Regions from separate parts of the Homo sapiens genome. Here regions 1, 2 and 3 are each linked to region 4. Evidence: fine-mapped expression QTL. A gene starts in region 4. Each other region holds a variant in brackets. All regions are shown on one strand. Distances are from middle to middle.

Region 1 (5,564 bases), 45 kb after region 4:
CTTGGAGATAAATAAATTTTATTCTCCTCCTCTAGCTTTGCAGTTCCCAAAAGTGTATAGAAAAAAATCGGCCTCTTTTGTTAGTTAAGTAAAGCTGGGCCCATATTCATGGAAGATGTTGGACCATAACCTGTATTTTAGTAATTTGGTGAAAAAGGAATGTTGTCACCGTGGCTCTGCCCTCAGGAAATTGTCCAACCTCAGAGCCTCCCAGGTTGTATGGCAACTGAGTGAGGGTATGCGACTTCTTAGGCAAACCTCATCCTGAGATTTGGTCGGGGAATTGGATTTTTTTTTTTTTTTGAGACGGAATCTTGCTCTGTCGCACAGGCTGGAGTACAGTGGCACAGTCTTGGCTCACTGCAAGCTCCACCTCCTGGGTTCACGCCATTCTCCTGCCTCAGCCTTCCGAGTAGCTGGGACCACAGGTGCCCACCACCACGCCCGGCTAATTTTTTGTATTTTTAGTAGAGACGGTTTTCACCATGTTAGCCAGGATGGTCTCGATCTCCTGACCTCGTGATCCGCCCGCCTCAGCCTCCCAAAGTGCTGGGATTACAGGCATGAGCCACCGCGCCCCGCCAGGGAATTGGATTTGTGAGTCTTTTGTTCTTTCTCTACCTTTACTCTGCCATTTAGAAAATTAAAGTTATTAAATTTCCATTTTGATTCCTCGTTGTTCAGGGAATTTTTAAAAGGAAATTTTACATTAAATTCCCCAAGTGTCATTTTTTTTAAAAACTCATCTTTCGTGTTTTAGGTTGTTTTAGATTCTAATCAGAGAATGAGGTGCCTTTGCAACTAGATGTTCCAGTGACATAAGAAAATGATGTGTAATCTCTGTATAGTCACGACATTGAGCTTGTTGATTATCTCCTTCAGATCCCTAATATGTTTCCTTTAGCTTACTTGACCTGTTAGATTATGAAAGAATTAAAATTTTCTACTGTGATCAGATTTTATCATGTTCTCTTTGTATTTCTAGAAGTTTTAACTTTTAGTACTTGACTCTTACATTGGTTGTCCAAAAAAATTTTTATTTTTTGAGACAGTTTCACTGTCACCCAGGCTGGAGTGCCACGGCGCAATCTCAGCTTATTGTAGCCTCCACCTTCCCGGTTCAAACGAATCTTGACTCTCAGCCTCCTGAGTAGCTGGGACTACAGTTGTGCGCCACCACACGGCTAATTTTTTTTTTTTTTGTATTTTCGTAGAGATAGTGTTTCATCATGTTGGGCAGGCTGGTGTCGAACTCCTGGCCTCAAGTGATCCACTTGCCTTGGCCTTCCAAAGTGCTGAGATTACAGGCATGAGCCACTGTGCCTGACCCCAAACATTTTTATTTAAAGGAATACAGTTAGAATTGAGTAAATGGAAAGAGATATACTGTGCAACTGAATGACCATCATATAAATGACAGCCCTTCCCAACCCAAATTATATATAAATTTAATGTCATTCTGATCAGAAGTCTGACAATTTTTTCTTGGGTGGGGGGGCAGGGTTGGGAGACTGGTTCAGATGTTATATGTAAGAATAAGTTGGTAAGAATTACCTAAAAAATCTTAAAAATAAGAGTAGTTGGGGGTGGGTAGCTTTTTAAAATCATGTGTTAAAATTACCATAATGCTACAGTAATAAAAATAGTGTGATAACAAAAAAAAAAATACAGAATTAAGTCAGTTGAATGAAATAGAACAGAGTCTAGCATTGTAAGAAATTAAGATAAAGGCTGAATTTCATTTCGCTGGTAAAAGGGATGTTTACTTGATAAATGATTTTAATATAATTGGCTATTTCAAAGAGAACAAAATTAGGGAGAAAGAGCTAAGTGGAAAATGCAATTTATAATATTAGAAGAAATTTTAGGAGACTATAGTTTTAAGGTGTGGAAGACCTTCAGAGACAAGACAGGAAGTGCAGAAGAAATAAAGGAAAATATCAACATATTTAAATACATAAAAGTTTAAAAATTCTTTCTGATAGAATACGCCGCAAATTAGATCAGAATACTTTGTCACACATATGTGTTAACTTAAAATAATCAAAAGGATCAGAATCTAAATAGCGTTTATTCAAGCACAAAGTGTGAGGGTAGACCACTCAGGAACACGAACTCCAAAGGAATGAAGTCAGACTTTGGAAGTAAGGAAGTTTAGGTTTCATTTATATAGGCAGAGGCAGAGACATTTTTAGCAGGAATACAACATTATTCATACAGGTTGGCACATAGTCACAGCAGTTTGATTGGTTATAGGTGTTATTTCTTTTGGGGAAGGGTACAGTTAAAAACATTTTTTTTTTTTACAGAGAGTATAATAATGATGGGTTTTCTATAGTCTGATCTAAGCAAAGTAAAACAACACAGGGAAAATTAATCTTTAACAGGGGTTATTAACTACGAAGGCAGGGTCACACCTGTAGTTTCAGCTACTCTGGAGGCTGAGGCAGGAGGATTGCTGGATCCCATGAGTTCGAGGCTGCAGTGAGCCATGATTGTGCCACTCTACCCTAGCTTGGGTGACAGAGTGAGACCCAGTCTCTGGAAAAAAAAAAAAAAAAAAGGCAGGAAGGTTTTGTGCCTGACATTGTTTAATTCTCTAGTCATTGTACTGAACAGGAAAAATAAGAAAGCAAGTTAATCTATAATCTGAGAACGGAAGTTGTAACCATATGTGACTCAGATCACAGTCACATCTCTCTCAAGGCTTAAAGGGGTTGTTTTTTTGGACAGCTTTTAA[A/G]TGTTATTTTCACATTTGACAGTCAGAGGTTTGATAACCTTAATTTTTAAGTAGGGAACAGTCAAATAGAAAAATAGACAAGAATATGAATAAGCAGTTCACGGAAGAGAAAATGCATGTTGTCAAAACAAAACACTAAAATGCTACTGCATACAAGTAGGCAGTGAGAAAAGGGTTTTCACCTATCTAAGGAGAAAATTTGAAAAGCACATGAGTCTGCACGAGGGGTGGAGAAACGACCTCCTGCATACTCTGTGACAAGAGTGTGGACTGCTGCAGTGCTTCCGGGCACAGCTCACATCCTTTGACTCACGTGTCTCACAGTTAGGTCCCTCCTGCCGAAACAAACGTGCCAGCATTTACATGTACGAGGATGTTTAACCATTTTTTATTATAGCAAGAAACTGAAAAATATTTATATGCCCGGTAATATGGAATGGACTAAATAAATATATTTGTACTATACAGTATTTGCCATCTATAAAAATAATCCCTTTAAGTTTACATACATTGATTAGGAATAATCTTTATGCTAGAATAATTAGAAAAGGAACAAATTTCAGAGAGATGTTATATTGATCACATAGAAAATATATGTTTGTGTGGTTAGAGAGAGAGATTTGGAAGAACAGACACATACTAAAATGTTCTTAGGTGAATAGGATTGGGAGAGGGTAGTGAGAAAATCACTTTTTTTCCCCTATAAACTTCTATATTTTTTGTCTTGTTAGAGTAAGTTCAAAACACTAAAATGTATTTATTTGTTTTTTAAACCGTTAACTCTATCTTAACCTTTCTAATGTCTAATCACTTGTGATGAAGCCTGGGCCTAGCCTGTGTGCTTCTCTTCTGAAGAAGATGTGGTACACCTTTCAGGAGAGAACCCTGGCGTCCACTTCCTGGCCTGTACTGCTTTCTAAGCTCCTCTGTCTGATGCTCTCATTTCAGTGATCCATCACTTCAGACACTTTCTGGCTTCAGTTTCTTTGCCCCTTTATATTTCATTTGTGCTGTCTAGGCTGATAATCGGTAGGCAAAAATCACACAGTCTTATGATTACTGACCCTGTAGATTTGTGTTCTGCAGCCTCAGTTGTTCCCCTAAGATATCCCAGCAGCACTGTGTTTTCCCCAGTTACCACTCTCCTGAAATGTGAGTGGTATTTCAGACATTTCTGTCTTTCCTCAAACGTTTAATGCTGCCATCGTTTCACTCTGGCAGCGAGTGGCTGTGTCTTCTGCTCTGTGGGGAACATGGAAGCTCCACAAAGTACTTACCACTAATATGCAGTCTTCCTCCTCTTTTGCCAAGGCAAACAGGCCACCTGTGCTGGGGTCCCAGCCCTACCTGTCTCCTTCTGGATACTCCCTACATGGATTATCCCTGCTGGCCATTGCATCTCTTCCTCTTTTCCTCATTGATACATCACAAGAGTAAATACAAGGCCTTTGATGCCTATACCATCTGGTTCTTTGTTTCCTCTCTGACCTCTCTGTGGTATACTTATAGATAGAGAAATAAAAGGAAGGTAGATAGAGAAAAAGAAGGAAGGATATTTGGGTAGAATAATGAGAAAGCAGCATGAGCTAAAATGAGTGAGAAGACCTCAAGAGTAAAAATGCAGAACATGATGAAATAAACCTAAAGATAGCCTTATGTCCCCTACCCAGACTTGGGGGACAATAGGGAACATATTTCACTCTCATCTGAGCAAATGAAGGTTAATTGTTAGAACTACCAGATTATACCATTGTAATTTCTTACCTAGAGTTATAAGCCTGATTGTCATACTTTGATATTTGTGTTCTATTCCAGTTTTTGAAATCAAATGAAACATAAAACTTTATAAATTGGTATTCCTCAAGTGTATTCTGCAGAAAAGTAGCTTGGGGATGGGATTTGGGAAATATAAAATTAAATCTTTAATGTGTGGAAGTGCCTTGTGAATTTCTAGGAGCAGGTAGGCAGTGTGGGGTTTTCCATCCTTATGACCATGGATCCCTTTCCTTGCACGTCTTTCTCTCCCTTTTTCCTAATGTATGTCATCTGTCCCAAGGAAAGCAGTTTGAGAAATGTTGAAGGACATAAATAAATATGAGGTACTAAAGAAAATAAAAAGAAATATCAGGTTGCGTGATGTACAGTAATATGACTACTAAGAATTTTCTATTCCCTTTCAGTTTGCGTGCTTTTCTGAGTCTATACATTTTGAAGGTAGCAAATGATTTTTAAAAAATGAGAAAAGATTATTTTGACTAATGATCTTTTGGAGGAAATAAACTATTTTGTAAATAAGCATAGGAGAGTTCTAGTATGACTATAAAATCTTATATAATACCAGTGGTTATGATATTATGTGTTTTAAGGTTTTTCTTAGGATTGACCTGAATTTTTGTTATTTGAGTTATGTTTTCTTCTTTTCCAGTGGCAGCCGATTAGGAGGCCTGGTTACAGTGTTGTGCTTCTTTTTCAATCATGGAGAGGTAGGTAATCAAAAACTATTCTCAGAATTACTTCTGGAAATGCAGTTTTCTTCTTTAAATTTAATCTATAATGGCATTCTTTAAATGTTTGATCTTATTATTTTGATTCAAAATTTAAACACTAGCATTCATTTGAGTTAACTTTTCATGACCATTGTACTTCTTATGTGATATAAGGCTTAGTAATTTGATGAAATAATGGGTCTGTATCAACTGTATCAATTCTGTTTTTTTTTTTTGTTGTTGTTGTTGTTTTTGTTTTTGAGGCAGTGTCTTTTTTTGTTGCCCAGTCTGGAGTGCAGTGGTAGATCATAGCTCACTGCAGCCTCAAATTCTTGGGG
Region 2 (5,564 bases), 59 kb before region 4:
AGAATAAATATCATAAAATTATTGAACAAAACTCAAGATTGATTTCTGATTAAAAAGAAAAATACAGTTATAGGGAAAAGTGGAATTACTAACATCTAACTAATGTATTAAGGATGCCAATCTAAAATTTGCTAATAGCATCATATTTAAAAAATAATAACTATTAACATGAGAAGGAATGTAAGATTTTTTTTTTTTTTACTTTTTTTTTTATTATACTTTAAGTTTTAGGGTACATGTGCACATTGCGCAGGTTAGTTACATACGTATACATGGGCCATGCTGGTGCGCTGCATCCACTAACTCATCATGTAGCATTAGGTATATCTCCCAATGCTATCCCTCCCCCCTCCCCCACCCCACAACAGTCCCCAGAGTGTGATGTTCCCCTTCCTGTGTCCATGTGATCTCATTGTTCAATTCCCACCTATGAGTGAGAATATGCGGTGTTTGGTTTTTTGTTCTTGCAATAGTTTACTGAGAATGATATTTCCAATTTCATCCATGTCCCTACAAAGGACATGAACTCATCATTTTTTATGGCTGCATAGTATTCCATGGTGTATATGTGCCACATTTTCTTAATCCAGTCTATCATTGTTGGACATTTGGGTTGGTTCCAAGTCTTTGCTATTGTGAATAATGCCACAATAAACATACGTGTGCATGTGTCTTTATAGCAGCATGATTTATAGTCCTTTGGGTATATACCCAGTAATGGGATGGCTGGGTCAAATGGTATTTCTAGTTCTAGATCCCTGAGGAATCGCCACACTGACTTCCACAAGGGTTGAAATAGTTTACAATCCCACAAACAGTGTAAAAGTGTTCCTATTTCTCCACATCCTCTCCAGCACCTGTTGTTTGCTGACTTTTTAATGATTGCCATTCTAACTGGTGTGAGATGGTATCTCATTGTGGTTTTGATTTGCATTTCTCTGATGGCCAGTGATGATGAGCATTCTTTCATGTGTTTTTTGGCTGCATAAATGTCTTCTTTTGAGAAGTGTCTGTTCATATCCTTTGCCCACTTTTTGATGGGGTTGTTTGTTTTTTTCTTGTAAATTTGTTTGAGTTCATTGTAGATTCTGGATATTAGCCCTTTGTCAGATGAGTAGGTTGCGAAAATTTTCTCCCATTTTGTAGGTTGCCTGTTCACTCTGATGGTAGTTTCTTTTGCTGTGCAGAAGCTCTTTAGTTTAATTAGATCCTATTTGTCAATTTTGGCTTTTGTTGCCATTGCTTTTGGTGTTTTAGACATGAAGTCCTTGCCCATGCCTATGTCCTGAATGGTAATGCCTAGGTTTTCTTCTAGGGTTTTTATGGTTTTAGGTCTAACGTTTAAGTCTTTAATCCATCTTGAATTGATTTTTGTATAAGGTAAGGAAGGGATCCAGTTTCAGCTTTCTACATATGGCTAGCCAGTTTTCCCAGCACCATTTATTAAATAGGGAATCCTTTCCCCATTGCTTGTTTTTCTCAGGTTTGTCAAAGATCAGATAGTTGTAGATATGCAGCGTTATTTCTGAGGGCTCTGTTCTGTTCCATTGATCTATATCTCTGTTTTGGTACCAGTACCATGCTGTTTTGTTTACTGTAGCCTTGTAGTATAGTTTGAAGTCAGGTAGCAAGATGCCTCCAGCTTTGTTCTTTGGGCTTAGGATTGACTTGGCAATGCGGGCCCTTTTTTGGTTCCATATGAACTTTAAAGTAGTTTTTTCCAATTCTGTGAAGAAAGGCATTGGTAGCTTGATGGGGATGGCATTGAATCTGTAAATTACCTTGGGCAGTATGGCCATTTTCACGATATTGACTCTTCCTACCCATGAGCATGGAATGTTCTTCCATTTGTATCCTCTTTTATTTCCTTGAGCAGTGGTTTGTAGTTCTCCTTGAAGAGGTCCTTCACGTCCCTTGTAAGTTGGATTCCTAGGTATTTTATTCTCTTTGAAGCAATTGTGAATGGGAGTTCACTCATGATTTGGCTCTCTGTTTGTCTGTTGTTGGTGTATAAGAATGCTTGTGATTTTTGCACATTGATTTTGTATCCTGAGACTTTGCTGAAGTTGCTTATCAGCTTAAGGAGATTTTGGGCTGAGACAGTGGGGTTTTCTAGATATACAATCATGTCATCTGCAAACAGGGACAATTTGACTTCCTCTTTTCCTAATTGAATACCCTGTATTTCCTTCTCCTCCCTTATTGCCCTGGCCAGAACTTCCAACACTATGTTGAATAGAAGTGGTGAGAGAGGGCATCCCTGTCTTGTGCCAGTTTTCAAAGGGAATGCTTCCAGTTTTTGCCCATTCAGTATGATATTGGCTGTGGGTTTGTCATAGATAGCTCTTATTATTTTGAAATATGTCCCATCAATACCTAATTTATTGAGTGTTTTTAGCATGAAGGGTTGTTGAATTTTGTCAAAGGCCTTTTCTGCATCTATTGAGATAATCATGTGGTTTTTGTCTTTGTCTCTGTTTATATGCTGGATTACATTTATTGATTTGCGTATATTGAACCAGCCTTGCATCCCAGGGATGAAGCCCACTTGATCATGGTGGATAAGCTTTTTGATGTGCTGCTGGATTCGTTTTGCCAGTATTTTATTGAGGATTTTTGCATCAATGTTCGTCAAGGATATTGGTCTAAAATTCTCTTTTTTGGTTGTGTCTCTGCCCGGCTTTGGTATCAGAATGATGCTGGCCTCATAAAATGAATTAGGGAGGATTCCCTCTTTTTCTGTTGATTGGAATAGTTTCAGAAGGAAT[A/G]GTACCAGTTCCTCCTTGTACCTCTGGTAGAATTCGGCTGTGAATCCATCTGGTCCTGGACTGTTTTTGGTTGGTAAGCTATTGATTATTGCCACAACTTCAGATCCTGTTATTGGTCAATTCAGAGATTCAACTTCTTCCTGGTTTAGTCTTGGGAGAGTGTATGTCTCAAGGAATTTATCCATTTCTTCTGGATTTTCTAGTTTATTTGCGTAGAGGTGTTTGTAGTATTCTCTGATGGTAGTTTGTATTTCTGTGGGATCGGTGGTGATATCCCCTTTATCATTTTTTATTGTGTCTATTTGATTCTTCTCTCTTTTTTTCTTTATTAGTCTTGCTAGCGGTCTATCAATTTTGTTGATCCTTTCAAAAAACCAGCTCCTGGATTCATTAATTTTTTGAAGGGTTTTTTGTGTCTCTATTTCCTTCAGTTCTGCTCTGATTTTGGTTATTTCTTGCCTTCTGCTAGCTTTTGAATGTGTTTGCTCTTGCTTTTCTAGTTGTTTTAATTGTGATGTTAGGGTGTCAATTTTGGATCTTTCCTGCTTTCTTTTGTGGGCATTTAGTGCTATAAATTTCCCTCTACACACTGCTTTGAATGCGTCCCAGAGATTCTGGTATGTTGTGTCTTTGTTCTGGTTGGTTTCAAAGAACATCTTTATTTCTGCCTGCATTTCGTTATGTATCCAGTAGTCATTCAGGAGCAGGTTGTTCAGTTTCCATGTAGTTGAGCGGTTTTGAGTGAGATTCTTAATCCTGAATTCTAGTTTGACTGCACTGTGGTCTGAGAGATAGTTTGTTATAATCTCTGTCCTTTTACATTTGCTGAGGAGAGCTTTACTTCCAAGTATGTGGTCAATTTTGGAATAGGTGTGGTGTGGTGCTGAAAAAAATGTATATTCTGTTGATTTGGGGTGGAGAGTTCTGTAGATGTCTATTAGGTCCGCTTGGTGCAGAGCTGAGTTCAATTCCTGGGTATCCTTGTTGACTTTCTGTCTCGTTGATCTGTCTAATGTTGACAGTGGGGTGTTAAAGTCTCCCATTATTGTGTGGGAGTCTACGTCTCTTTGTAGGTCACTCAGGAGTTGCTTTATGAATCTGGGTGCTCCTGTATTGGGTGCATATATATTTAGGATAGTTAGCTCTTCTTGTTGAATTGATCCCTTTACCATTATGTACTGGCCTTCTTTGTCTCTTTTGATCTTTGTTGGTTTAAAGTCTGTTTTATCAGAGACTAGGATTGCAACCCCTGCCTTTTTTTGTTTTCCATTGGCTTGGTAGATCTTCCTCCATCCTTTTATTTTGAGCCTATGTGTGTCTCTGCACGTGAGATGGGTTTCCTGAATACAGCACACTGATGGGTCTTGACTCTTTATCCAATTTGCCAGTCTGTGTCTTTTAATTGGAGCATTTAGTCCATTTACATTTAAAGTTAATAGTGTTATGTGTGAATTTGATCCTGTCATTATGATGTTAGCTGGTGATTTTGCTCATTAGTTAATGCAGTTTCTTCCTAGTCTCGATGGTCTTTACATTTTGGCTTGATTTTGCAGCGGCTGGTACTGGTTGTTCCTTTCCATGTTTAGCGCTTCCTTCAGGAGCTCTTTTAGGGCAGGCCTAGTGGTGACAAAATCTCTCAGCATTTGCTTGTCTCTAAAGGATTTTATTTCTCCTTCACTTATGAAGCTTAGTTTGGCTGGATATGAAATTCTGGGTTGAAAATTCTTTCCTTTAAGAATGTTGAATATTGGCCCCCACTCTCTTCTGGCTTGTAGGGTTTCTGCCGAGAGATCCGCTGTTAGTCTGATGGGCTTCCCTTTGAGGGTAACCCGACCTTTCTCTCTGGCTGCCCTTAACATTTTTTCCTTCATTTCAACTTTGGTGAATCTGACAATTATGTGTCTTGGAGTTGCTCTTCTCGAGGAGTATCTTTGTGGCGTTCTCTGTATTTCCTGAATCTGAATGTTGGCCTGCCTTGCTAGATTGGGCAAGTTCTCCTGGATAATATCCTGCAGAGTGTTTTCCAACTTGGTTCCATTCTCCCCGTCAGTTTCAGGTACACCAATCAGACGTAGATTTGGTCTTTTCACATAGTCCCATATTTCTTGGAGGCTTTGCTCATTTCTTTTTATTCTTTTTTCTCTAAACTTCCCTTCTCACTTGTTTCATTCATTTCATCTTCCATTGCTGATACCCTTTCTTCCAGTTGATCACATCGGCTCCTGAGGCTTCTGCATTCTTCACGTAGTTCTCGAGCCTTGGTTTTCAGCTCCATCAGCTCCTTTAAGCACTTCTCTGTATTGGTTATTCTAGTTATACATTCTTCTAAATTTTTTTCAAAGTTTTCAACTTCTTTCCCTTTGGTTTGAATGTCCTCCCGTAGCTCAGAGTAATCTGATCGTCTGAAGCCTTCTTCTCTCAGCTCGTCAAAGTCATTCTCCATCCAGCTTTGTTCAGTTGCTGGTGAGGAACTGCGTTCCTTTGGAGGAGGAGAGGCACTCTGCATTTTAGGGTTTCCAGTTTTTCTGTTCTGTTTTTTCCCCATCTTTGTGGTTTTATCTACTTTTGGTCTTTGATGATGGTGATGTACAGATGGGTTTTTGGTGTGGATGTCCTTTCTGTTTGTTAGTTTTCCTTCTAACAGACAGGACCCTCAGCTGCAGGTCTGTTGGAATACCCTGCCGTGTGACGTGTCAGTGTGCCCCTGCTGCGGGGTGCCTCCCAGTTAGGCTGCTCGGGGGTCAGGGGTCAGGGACCCACTTGAGGAGGCAGTTGGCCCGTTCTCAGATCTCCAGC
Region 3 (5,564 bases), 42 kb before region 4:
AATGTTAAATTTATCAGGAATTCGATTAGGTTTTAATTTGTCTATTTTACTACAAATGGGCCTTATGTTTAGATGGTGATGGCACTTGGAAATTATATTTATGTTTGTTTCATCTTGAAAGTGTGCTTTTACATATATATTTATGAATGTATATTGAAGCTTTATTATTAGGATATGTCTTTCATTTGGTTAAATGAGATGTGAAAATGCAACATGCTTAATTTCATTCTATTTTTTAAATTTCTAAACATTGAAATTGTTTTTTGAAATGACGCTTTAAAATATTTAACTTATGAAATAAATTTGTCTCTGAAAATCTAGATGTTGTGTTATGTATCTATTTTCTCTAGACAGGAATACATTTCTAATATGGATATATATGTCTGTCTTTTTTCAGGCCTGGTTGCAGTATGCTTGAAATCTGTGATGTGGAAGACCCTTCCAATGCAGCTAACCCTCCCTTATGTAGCGTCCTGCTCAAAGATGCCAGGCCTTACTTCACCACAGTATTTCAGAATAGTGTGTACAGAGTATTGAGGGTTAACTGAGAAGGAAACTACCCATTACACTATGGCACAATGTGGTGTGTCAAAAACAATCACCCTTTGGCTTATTTACATTAATAAAAATCACAAGCTTTAATAACAGACACTTAAAAATAAGATAAAAATGGATTGAAAGTTTCTCTGATTACTAAAAGGTAAATTACTTTTCTGTTCATTGAATGTCAGCCTTATTAAGCTTGTCATATAAGTTATTAAATCATTCATGTCATACTGCATAAACAAATGTTCATTTCAGAATTTTAAAGAAAAATGTATATAAAAGAACAATGAATTTTAATAAATCAAGGGTACGTAAGTCCTTTTTCATCCAACTAGGTGAATTGCTTCAGATTTTCCCTAGTACCAGAGTGTACCTGCTCAAACTCTTTGAACCACTTAAGGGAGAAGAACGCAAGCTCTGAAATGACATCCTTAAAATGCTGATACTGATCACAACCTCTTTACCTCTGTGAGCAAATTGTAACAGTGTGTCTTTTAAGGTGTTTTTATTTCACCAGCCCTTAAGAAAGATCTCTAATACCTTTTAATACTTTTTTTTTATAATTTCAAGTTGAAGTGTTTTTAAAAACACCTTGTTTTGTAACGTTTTGAATCTCTTGAGATGTATTTACCCCACTAGATACATATTTGCCACTGGTTAGTTCTCCATCTAAGCTCAAGAGGTTATTCATCTCTCTTTAGATTCCAATGGTTTTTCTTTTAACATCCAGGTAAAATAGAAACTGCTATGGTATACAACCAAATTTTGGGGTTAAACATAATCAGAAAAGAAAATCCAGTTAAATTTATGAAGTGAGATTTTCAGATCCTAGATCTTGAATAAAGCAAACGGCTTTTCATCTTGATGGCCCCAAAGCTTGTTGGTCATGGTCTTTATTTCTGGCCACTATCATCTTCTTAAATAATATATTTTTAAGCCCTCATTTATTTTTGGTTTTGGATGAGGAAAGTCATGTTTTCTAAGTCCTCTCCCCTAATAAAACCTACCCAACAATAGTGCTTTGAAAAGTGGTAGTTATCTTGAAGATAGATACTCTTGCCAAATGCAAAGATAAACATTCTTTTTGTCTGCTTTATAAATATGAAATATGCCAGATCTATAGTATTTTAATGTGCATCTACTTTAAATGAGTCATCTTGGGGTTTTTATAATTCCCTTACATTCTTGCCCCTCTACACTTGAAATAACAAAATGCCTTAATTTTATAGATTAGTTCTCTTATAGCAGACAGGCAGCTATATGCAGCAAAACCAATAAAGTTATTTTTCAACTTTAATAGTTGTAAAATGTTATAACAGAATACATAACAGCTAAGAAAACATGCCACATTTTATTTTAGCATTTTCAAATAATTTGTTTTTGGTGTAAGCACAGGATAAAAAAGGAGAGCGTCAAAGAAAAGAGACTTAAAAAAATAACATTCATAAAAATTAACAAAGTATATTTTGGATGATGTTTTTACAGGAAATAGTTTAAGTTGGTAGAATTTTTAAAATGGTACTGTATTAGCTAATAAAATATTCAGTACATATATATGTTTGGATTTATGCATTAAAAAACTAATAAAATTATTTCCAACTTTTGTATTTGTAAATTATTTTGGTACAGGAGACAAAGCATCTAAGAAAGCATGCCGCACATTTTACTTATTTTAGCATTTTCAAATAATCTGTTTCAGTGATGTGTGGGACAAAAAAGGAAAAGAGACGTAACACCTAACATAAAATTAAAGTAACACATTTCAGATGATGTTACAGTAGCAAAGACTTGTAACTAACCCAAATACCCATCAATGATAGACTGGATAAAGAAAATGTGTCACATACACACCATGGAATACTATGCAGCCATAAAAAAGGATGAGTTCATGTCCTTTGCAGGGACGTGGATGAAGCTGGAAGCCATCGTTCTCAGCAAACTAACACAAGATCAGAAAACCAAACACCATATGTTCTCACTCATAAGTGGGAGTTGAACAATGAGAACACATGGACACAGAGAGGGGAACATCACACAAGGGCCTGTTGGTGGGGGGCAAGGGGAGGGAGAGCATTAGGACAAATACCTAATGCATGCAGGACTTAAACCCTAAATGA[C/T]GGGTCGATAGGTGCAGCAAACCACCATGGCACATGTATACCTATGTAACAAACCTGCATGTTTTGCACATGTATCCCAGAACTTAAAGTAAAATAAATTTTAAAAAGTCAGTAGAACTCAACAAAAAATGGATGAGCTGTACTAATAAAATGTTCCATACACATACGATGTTTTCATATATATTTATGTTATTTTCATGTACTAGCTGTGTTAAGTAACTGTAAAGCCCTTGAAGATCCTGTTTTCTGTCTTTTCTCATCCTTCACAATGCATACATTTTGAAATTGAAATTGTTCTCATATAAAGGGAGAAATAGGTTGCTGGGCTTACTAGCCATGTTTACACTGGCAGTGCTCTTTCTTAGCCATTTAAAAATGATTCTGTATAGTCTTACACAGAAGGCAATATACTATGATGGAAATAGTGTGAGCTGTGCAATGAGATGTATCGAAGTTTGAATACTGCTTCCATTAGTTAGGTACCTACCATGTATTCAAAAGATATTCATTAAACACTTACTGTATGTCAGGCACCATGCTATGGTTGGTCATGTTACTTAACTCCATGAGCTTTCTTCACCTGTAAAGCAGAACTCACAATACCTACTTGGCGGAGTCATTATGAGGATTAGTGAAACAAAGTTTTGAAGTACCTGGCACATAAAGGCACTCAACAAACATTAGTTTCTTCTGCACTACCCACTACAACTCACTAATAACCATTTCAGTAATATCAAGTTGCAGAGTGAGGTTAGCTCATTTCAGAATTCCAAATAGTCTCCCCTTTATTTGATGTCAACAAATAGGAGTACTGGGCTGCAGCTTGTTCTTATACAAATTGTTCTACTGAATTCTTGCCTGTATAAATTTTATTTTTTATTCTTTTGAAACATGAGGAGATTTTCACTTAATTCAATGAAGCTTTTTCCATAGTTTCTAGGATCCTATGTTTGCACACTAATCTGCAACTATGGCTAGAAGTGAGGTGCACACAAGCTGCAACAATTCCTTCATCTGCTTCATCCGGTTGTCAGAAGCAAATGCACAGCTTCAACAGTATCTGTGTTCTACCACTTTGCTGCTGATAGACACCAAAAATCTGAGTACTTTAATAATAAAATTATGTTTATATTTTTATACATTACATGTTCCTATTATACACGAAGGACAAACTCACAGAAAAATTAGTTTTGAAAAAAACAGGACATTTTAAAGAAGGGGACAATTATATATATACATACACATAGCAGCAAAAATGGCAATAGCTCAAAAGTGGTTAAGATATACATACAGACACTGCAATGAACATCTTAGTGCATACTTTATGATTTTAAAGTTATTTCCATAGGAAAGATTTCATAAAGTTAAATTTCCTTAAAAAAACTGTGGACACCCTTAAAGCCTTCAATGCAGTTAGCCTCAAATTACCTTTGCAAAGGTATGTGTGCACCTTTTGGATTGTATGCACCACCAAAAGTTAGTGTGTATAACAATGCTCATTTTACAACACTCTCACTGGGATTAATTAGCCTTATTAAGAATATATTTTGCTAATTTGTGAGGCCCAAAATAGTATTTGTTATTATTCTCATTTGTATTTGTTCTATGTCCAGAAAAACTCACCATATTCTTTAGAAAGTGTATGTCTCTGAAGCTCTGTATGGGTTCATATTCTTTAATTCATCGAGTCTGTTCATAAAGGATGGGGATTGAGATAAGGGGAAAGAAAAATCTTTGAAAATTCTTAATAAGAGAAATATAAGGACATTTTCAAAAGGACAGGTATATATATATAACTTCATGCACAAAAGTCAAATTTAAATGGGTCAAGGACTTAAATGAAAGTAAAATGTTTAAAGTCTTAGAAGAAAATAGGGAAATACAGATTAAAACCACATGGTAATATTTACATTCAGATAAGAATTGGTGAGGACAGGGTGCCACAAGAACTCTCATGAAATTATAGTAGGAGTGTAAATTGGTACAGCCACCTTAGAAAATAAGTTGTTAATTCCTAATAAGTTTTAAAGTATGTAGTCTCTGCAATTTATAGTGTCACCCTAAAGAAATGTTGTTACAAATATACCAAGGAAACCAATTACAAGAATCTTCATGGAAGCATTATTTGTACCTGAGGAAAAAAAGCTGAAAACAACTCAAAGGCCCACCAACAGAATGGATAAAATGGATATTTCCATACAACGTAATATTGTAAAGGAATGAATGTGATCTACAGTGACAAGCATCAGTGGGAACCAATGTCAAATAGACTGTTAAAAAACTAAGTCATCAAAGGGGATGTGTGTGCATGTCAATATATATGCCATTTACATAGGGCCTAAAAGCAAACAAGACAATATTATAGAAGATATAGTGTGGCAAAACAGCGAAAGCATAGGCATAATTAATTCAAAACATAGGCTGGTGATCACTTCTAGGAAAGAATGCAATACAGGAGAAGCCCTGGGTGCTTCAATGTTAATATTCAATTCCTTGGTGTTAAGTATACAAGTGTTCATTTTATAATTCTTTAAAATGTGTGTGTATATATGTATATAATGCTTAATATATATTTATACTCTTCAAAGTAGGGCTTTGATTCCTCATCAGTGGTTCTTAAACCTCATGTTCTCTTTAGGTAACTCTGGGAGCCTAAATAAGCATCAAGAGTTGTTCTGATGACACGTCCAGCTATTCAAATAAATGTTCAAATTGTAGATTTTATTGTTTCCATTTGTGCAATGTATTTTTTTCCTTCCAACTTCTATTTTAGGTGCAGGAGTACATTTGCAGGTTTGTTATATAGGTAAATTGCATGTCATGGGGTTTGGTGTACAGATTATTTTGTCACCCAGGTAATAAGCATCGTACCTGATAGGTATTTTCTCAGTCCTCGCTCTC
Region 4 (5,564 bases):
AGGTTCTGGGAGGACAGAAGTTTGCCACTCTCCTTAAACGTCATCCACTACTTTGAACACTTATTGAGCAACTACCAACATCCAGACAATTTGAACATTCACTGAGCAACTACTTGGATATATGTAATTGTTAGATGCTTTACACACATTGTCTTATTTTTTACAAACCTGTGAACTAGATGTTTTTGTTGCCTCCATTTTAAGAATGAAGAAATCCAGACTCAAAGAGGTATAATACCTTGGTCAAGGCTGGTATGGGTCAATGTAGTGGCTGCAAACTGGATCTAAATTGACCGTGTTTAAGAAAAAAACAAACAAAACAAAAAAACCAAAAAACTAATACCTCACACTGCCCCTCTCCGCATGGTTGCCAAGCCGAGAAGGGGAACTGACAAGCACTTGTGGAACTGCATTCATTCACTCACTCATTCAACAAGTGTTTTCCTGGTACAAACGGTACCAGCTTAAGGGAGGCAGTTCCTGAATTCAGGGCCTATCACATAAAGTAGACACACAGCAATCTAATAATTCAAATGTTGAACCTCTTTTTCCATGCGTCTTTCTAATCATTAAAAAAAATCCATCATTTGTATTATTTTTATTTATTTATTTTTTTGAGATGGAGTCTCGCTCTGTCGCCCAGGCTGGAGTGCAGTGGCGTATCTCAGCTCACTGCAACCTCCGCCTCCCGGGTTCAGGCGATTCTTCTGCCTCAGCCTCCCAAGTAGCTGGGACTACAGGCGCCTGCTACCACGCCTGGCTAATTTTTGTATTTTTATTAGAAACAGAGGTTCACCATCTTGGCCAGGCTGGTCTTGAACTCTTGGCCTCGTGATCTGCCCGCCTCGGCCTCCCAGAGTGTTGGGATTACAGGCGTGAGCCACGGTGCCCGGCCAGTTATTCGTATTATCTTTAATAGGCATTGAATTAGCTTTCTTTTAACTGAATACATTCAACATTAATCCCAGAGGTAGCATTGAGTTCAGCTGACACAATGTTTCAGAATCCAAGCCTTCTGCATCCTACTTTCAACCATTATTTTTTAAACCAGTGTATAAAAATAGTTGTTCTTTGCTCCAATAAAGACATTGGAAAATCCAAATTCATAAACTAGACAGGGTATGAGGGAGTATTAATTAGCATGGCAAACACCCTCCCTTTACAAAATAATCCACTGTCTCTTAAAAAGGCTAACAATGAACGAATGCTGGTATTAGTAAAGAAATCACTGGGCAAAGAAACAAAGAGCGAGAAAGCCACGTGAAGTCCCTGGAATTACAATAGAGATAAGCAGAACGATGGGCCTTGATTTACAACATTGGGACTTAAAGACAACTTTTTGGAACAAGCCACTGGGCACGGCCAGGAAAGGAACCTCCCAGTTGTAATCCATGCTGTTGTAAGACTGTGTGCAAAGAATGCAGGGGTGGAGGGAGAATTGGGATCTACCTGGGTTTCTAAATTTTCCCGGGTTTAATTTACTCGTGCATTCTGCTATGTAAAAGAAAACATATTTTCGACTAAAATCTCCTATCTTATCAACGCCAAGTTTTCCTGCTTCCTATTAAGCAACAAGGTTACAGCAAGTGTAACAAACTGAATGTACTTATTGATGATCTTTCCTGCTCCAGCCAATCCATCCTATCACCTTCAGCCTGGCTCCTACCCTGGTCTTCAGTTTACACTTGTGCCTCGTCCCTTATCAGCTCCCCATGAGATTCCAGGCTGCTATTTTAATACTCTGTTACTATCTTAAATCGGGTCGCACCCGTTCTTCTTGTCGGTGAGTGAGGGGCTGCGCTCCAAGTTGCGCGACCACACTGCGGGGAGTAAACGGAGACGGTGACTTGATTGCCACCCGCGCGCTTCACATCGGTGGGGCCGACCAGGCGCCCAGGGCGCACGCACAGCGCCCCTAAGTGGCCGCTCCGGGCGCCTTCTCCCTGCCCCGCCGCGTCTCGCCTGCGCGGGCTCCAAGCGCAGCCTTAACAGGCTCCGAAACTTGAATCAGCGCCCCGATCCCGAGAGGGCTCTTCCTTCGGCCCCATCACTCCCACAATGGAAGGGCGGCCGCCTCCGGAAGGCCGTCCGCCCCCGCGTCCTCGCACCGGCCGAGCCCCGCGCGGGCGCCGAAGAGGTGTGGGTAGCCGGGCGCCAGAGGGGTCGGGCCCCGCCTGCGCCGGAAGTCCGCGCGTGCGCGCTGGCCGGCCTGGAGCGCGCGTCCGGCGCAGAGGGGCGGCGGGGGCGGGGCCGCGGCCGCTCGCAGGGTGTCCCCGCCCCCGCCCCCCGGCGTTCCGCGGTCGCCGTGACAACCGGAGCGGCGGCAACGGCGGCGGGCTAGCAAGTCCGGCGCCGCCTCCCGGCGGTACTGCCAGCCAGGCAGCAGCCGCCCGGCCTCCACGATCTCCCCGCCTCCCGGCCCGCGGGGAGGGACGAGCCCGCCCTCCACCCTCCGCCCGCCCGCCCGCTGGAGAGTGAGCTGCGCCCAGCCGCCCAGCCAGCCCGCCGTTCTCTGGCCGCCGTCCGGGCGCGCGCAGCGAGCGGGCGCGACTATGCCAAGATGGTCCTGCAGGCGCGGAACAAGCACCGGGAGGCGGCTCCCAAGCCGCCCCAGCCACCCCGCGCCTCACAGTCGCCGCTGAGGGGGGCGTCGGACGTCGGCGCCGGGGAGCCGGGGCCCGAGCGCGCGCCCCTGTCCCCGGGGCGCAAGGGCGCCGCGGGCAGGAAGGGGCCCCGCGCCGAGCCCGGCGCGCCGCCCGCCGGGGGCGGCCTTGGGGGGCGCCTGGCCGCCCGGCTGCGCTGGGCGCTGGGCCTGCGGCGCGCGGGGCGCGGCCGGACCTGGACCACGCTCCTGTTAGGTGAGCAGCCCTAGCGCCGGCGCCGCCGGGACGCGGAACTTTGAGGCGCTGGCCCCCTCCCCTCCCCTCCCCTCCCCTTCCTTCCCCTCTCCTCCCGCTTCCGCCGCGCCGAGCCCCGCCAGCCGGACCAGCCAGTTTGCAGCCCTCTCCGACTTTTTCTCTGGGACATTCTTACCTTCTCCTCCCCGCAACTCCCTGGCTCAGCTCTCCTCGCACGCTTCCCACCCGCGCTCTGCCTGGGCTTTAAAAGAATGGCCCGGGGATCAACAGCTGCCCGGCCTGGCCGCGGGCAGCAGGTCTGCGCTAACGAGACTTGAGCGCTGCTGATTGGTACGACTGGCCGCCTTCCCGTTATCTCGGCCTCTGACCGCCAGGATGGTTTGCTTTGGCTTGGAAACGATTCCGTGGAGCTCAAAGCAAACGCACGTTCCATGTCGTAGAGAGTTGCTTAAACTTATAATTAAATTTTAGCGTACTTTTTTCTTCCTGGCCGCAAACGCCGCTGGTGGCACTTTATTTGTGATTCCCCTCGACACGTCACTTTCTAGGTTGTGTTGTGTTTGGGGCGCCCGAGCCTTAATCCTCCCTGCTGCCCTTGGAACCTTTGGTGAGGAGGGCTCTCCTCCCCTCCCTCTGCCATTTACCAAATGGATGATGTGTAATGATGTGCTGAAAAAAAAAAACAAAGTTGACGCATTCGTATGTTTCGGACTGACTTCAGGTTTCCTCTGTTTCCTGGTTGAATTTTGATAAGGCAAGTTGTAGCAGTTTGGATAACAGGCCTAATTTTTCTAAGTCAACTAGTGAAATGCTGTTACATTGCTTTTTTCTATATGCCTCAGTGGGCTTTTCGCTACTGAACTATTTAATTACTGTTGATTTATCCCTTAGTATATTTTCAGATTCCCTTGGTGACTCAAAGTTCCCTTAGCCAGGAGTTGGGGTCCAGTATAAGTCAAGGAATAGGACACAGCAAATTGGCTTCCCCTGAGATCACAGCCACAAATAAAAGCCACTCAGTCATAAAAAGCCAGTCATCTCTGTATGTTTTAATGGGCTCAAGAAGGTTGTTCCTAGGGTACTTTTTTTCCCCCCATTGCCGATTCAAGCCTAGAAAAACCAAGTTTGTTTTTCTTTGTTTGTTTGTTTGTCTGTTTCCAGCACATTTCCCCCCGCCCCCTTTTTTTTTATCTCAGTAGCAAGCTTGAAAAGCTGGCTAGTATGCAGGTTAGAAAAGCTCACCTTGGGGAGGCAGCACGATACAGTGGATGAGGCAGAGCCTTCAGATCTAGTACACAGCGGTTCAGTTTGGTTTAAGTTTCAGGTTCCTTTGTGAGTCTTTCGTTCTCTGCTAGTGGGGGGTTATCACATGGCGAATTTACTCCACAGGGATCCACAGGATCTGTTAAGGATCATAACTAAAAGGTGTGGGTGATACATGGGAAGATACTTTGTGTTTAGAGCACTTGACACATTGTAGTTGTTGTAATAAAAGAAAGTGTGTGATGCTGATTTGAGATCTGATGACAGAATGGAGTTGCATTTTTATTGAATGACTAAACATTAACCACTTTGTAGTAAAATATAGAATGGCATTGCTTCTTCAGGGATGTTACAATAACAAATCTTAGAATAATGATATTTATTGCTATTTTCTGCATATTTTCTTTTTTGATTGCGTTTCCTTTGAATCTTCTTTGGATGGATGCATGACTTATATTTGGATGACTTACCTTTGGATTTAGTAATTCCCATACCTAAATACAGTTTTGTATTAATGTAACAGTATAGCACGTTGCTTGACTTGCCCCTTTGAGCATTGAAAGGAGGTACAGTGAATGTGGTAGATTGTATTTTTGGGTGTACCCTGGACCATGGCCATCAGATATATGGAAGTTGGATGAACAGACCCAGGTCTAGAGACTTTCTGTCCTTGTTAACCCTCTGCATGAGGCCCCAGGGCACCTTGAGAGATGATTCTGCTGAATGATTGGACCTGGGTTGCTTCTTTCTCTGGCTCTGTACCGTCATAAACTGATGTCAGACCTATTTCTTCCCCACGATTATGCCCTGCCACAGCGTCAAAAAACCACTCAGATCCTGCAGAGAGGAGCAGAGTTTAGACATTTTTGAAAGCTGCCTTATTTCCTGTTTTCTTCCCCCCTCCCAGAATGAGTGAGAGTTGAGCTGACATTATACAGTATTTCAATGTGGGACTTTAAAATAGCTGTTTGGTTTTCCACATTGCATTGCATATTCTTTTGTTCATCAAGAGTTCATTTGTAACTGATCAAAAAAAGAACAATTATAACAACTAAATATTAAGCTAGACAGAAATGGATTCATTTCTATTTAGAAAGTAATTTTGTAACTTAAAGCTCCGTGATAGAAACACACATTTTCAAGAGTTAGAAACTGTCTGGGGCTTTCCTCCATAGGTTCTAATCACTGATGAGGAACTCACTGCCTTCCAACATGGTCTTTCCACTGTTGGGCAGGGTTAAGCATTGTTGAAAAGTCTCTTTTCATAAATATATGTTTTTCTTATTGTGGGGCATTATTTGCTACTTATTTAGTGCTAATATTTGTAAAGAGGGGTTCTTGACATGTTTATTTTTAGAAGTTTCAACCTGATAGCTTCCTCATGCAGAGGTGGCTGTGACATAGTAAGAACCTTGACAATGTTTCCCAAACTTTTTTGACCAC

What was found.
Region 1: its variant is fine-mapped to the expression of DPY19L1 in whole blood (INTERVAL, PIP 0.99).
Region 2: its variant is fine-mapped to the expression of DPY19L1 in whole blood (TOPMed, PIP above 0.99).
Region 3: its variant is fine-mapped to the expression of DPY19L1 in whole blood (INTERVAL, PIP above 0.99).

Annotation. Positions count from the first base shown.
Region 1 is chr7:34,989,543-34,995,106 of GRCh38, reverse strand. It overlaps DPY19L1 (dpy-19 like C-mannosyltransferase 1), which reads left to right. Exons shown (of 22, transcript NM_001366673.1): 7 at 5,166-5,223. Among named protein-coding and RNA genes, the nearest start is that of DPY19L1, 45 kb to the left of the region's middle. The variant A/G (reference allele first, on the strand shown) is at 2,741.
Region 2 is chr7:35,093,611-35,099,174 of GRCh38, reverse strand. The region is part of intron 1 of LOC105375228 (a long non-coding RNA gene); the gene reads right to left. It also overlaps the pseudogene DPY19L2P1. Among named protein-coding and RNA genes, the nearest start is that of DPY19L1, 59 kb to the right of the region's middle. The variant A/G (reference allele first, on the strand shown) is at 2,769.
Region 3 is chr7:35,076,574-35,082,137 of GRCh38, reverse strand. All of the region lies in intron 1 of LOC105375228 (a long non-coding RNA gene), which reads right to left. It also overlaps the pseudogene DPY19L2P1. Among named protein-coding and RNA genes, the nearest start is that of DPY19L1, 42 kb to the right of the region's middle. The variant C/T (reference allele first, on the strand shown) is at 2,664.
Region 4 is chr7:35,034,391-35,039,954 of GRCh38, reverse strand. It overlaps DPY19L1 (dpy-19 like C-mannosyltransferase 1), which reads left to right and starts at 2,470. Exons shown (of 22, transcript NM_001366673.1): 1 at 2,470-2,858. The coding sequence starts at 2,561. LOC105375228 (a long non-coding RNA gene) reads right to left here and starts at 3,169. Exons shown (of 3, transcript XR_001745162.3): 1 at 3,034-3,169. RefSeq lists an enhancer at 1,631-1,860 and silencers at 1,911-2,580, 2,611-2,780.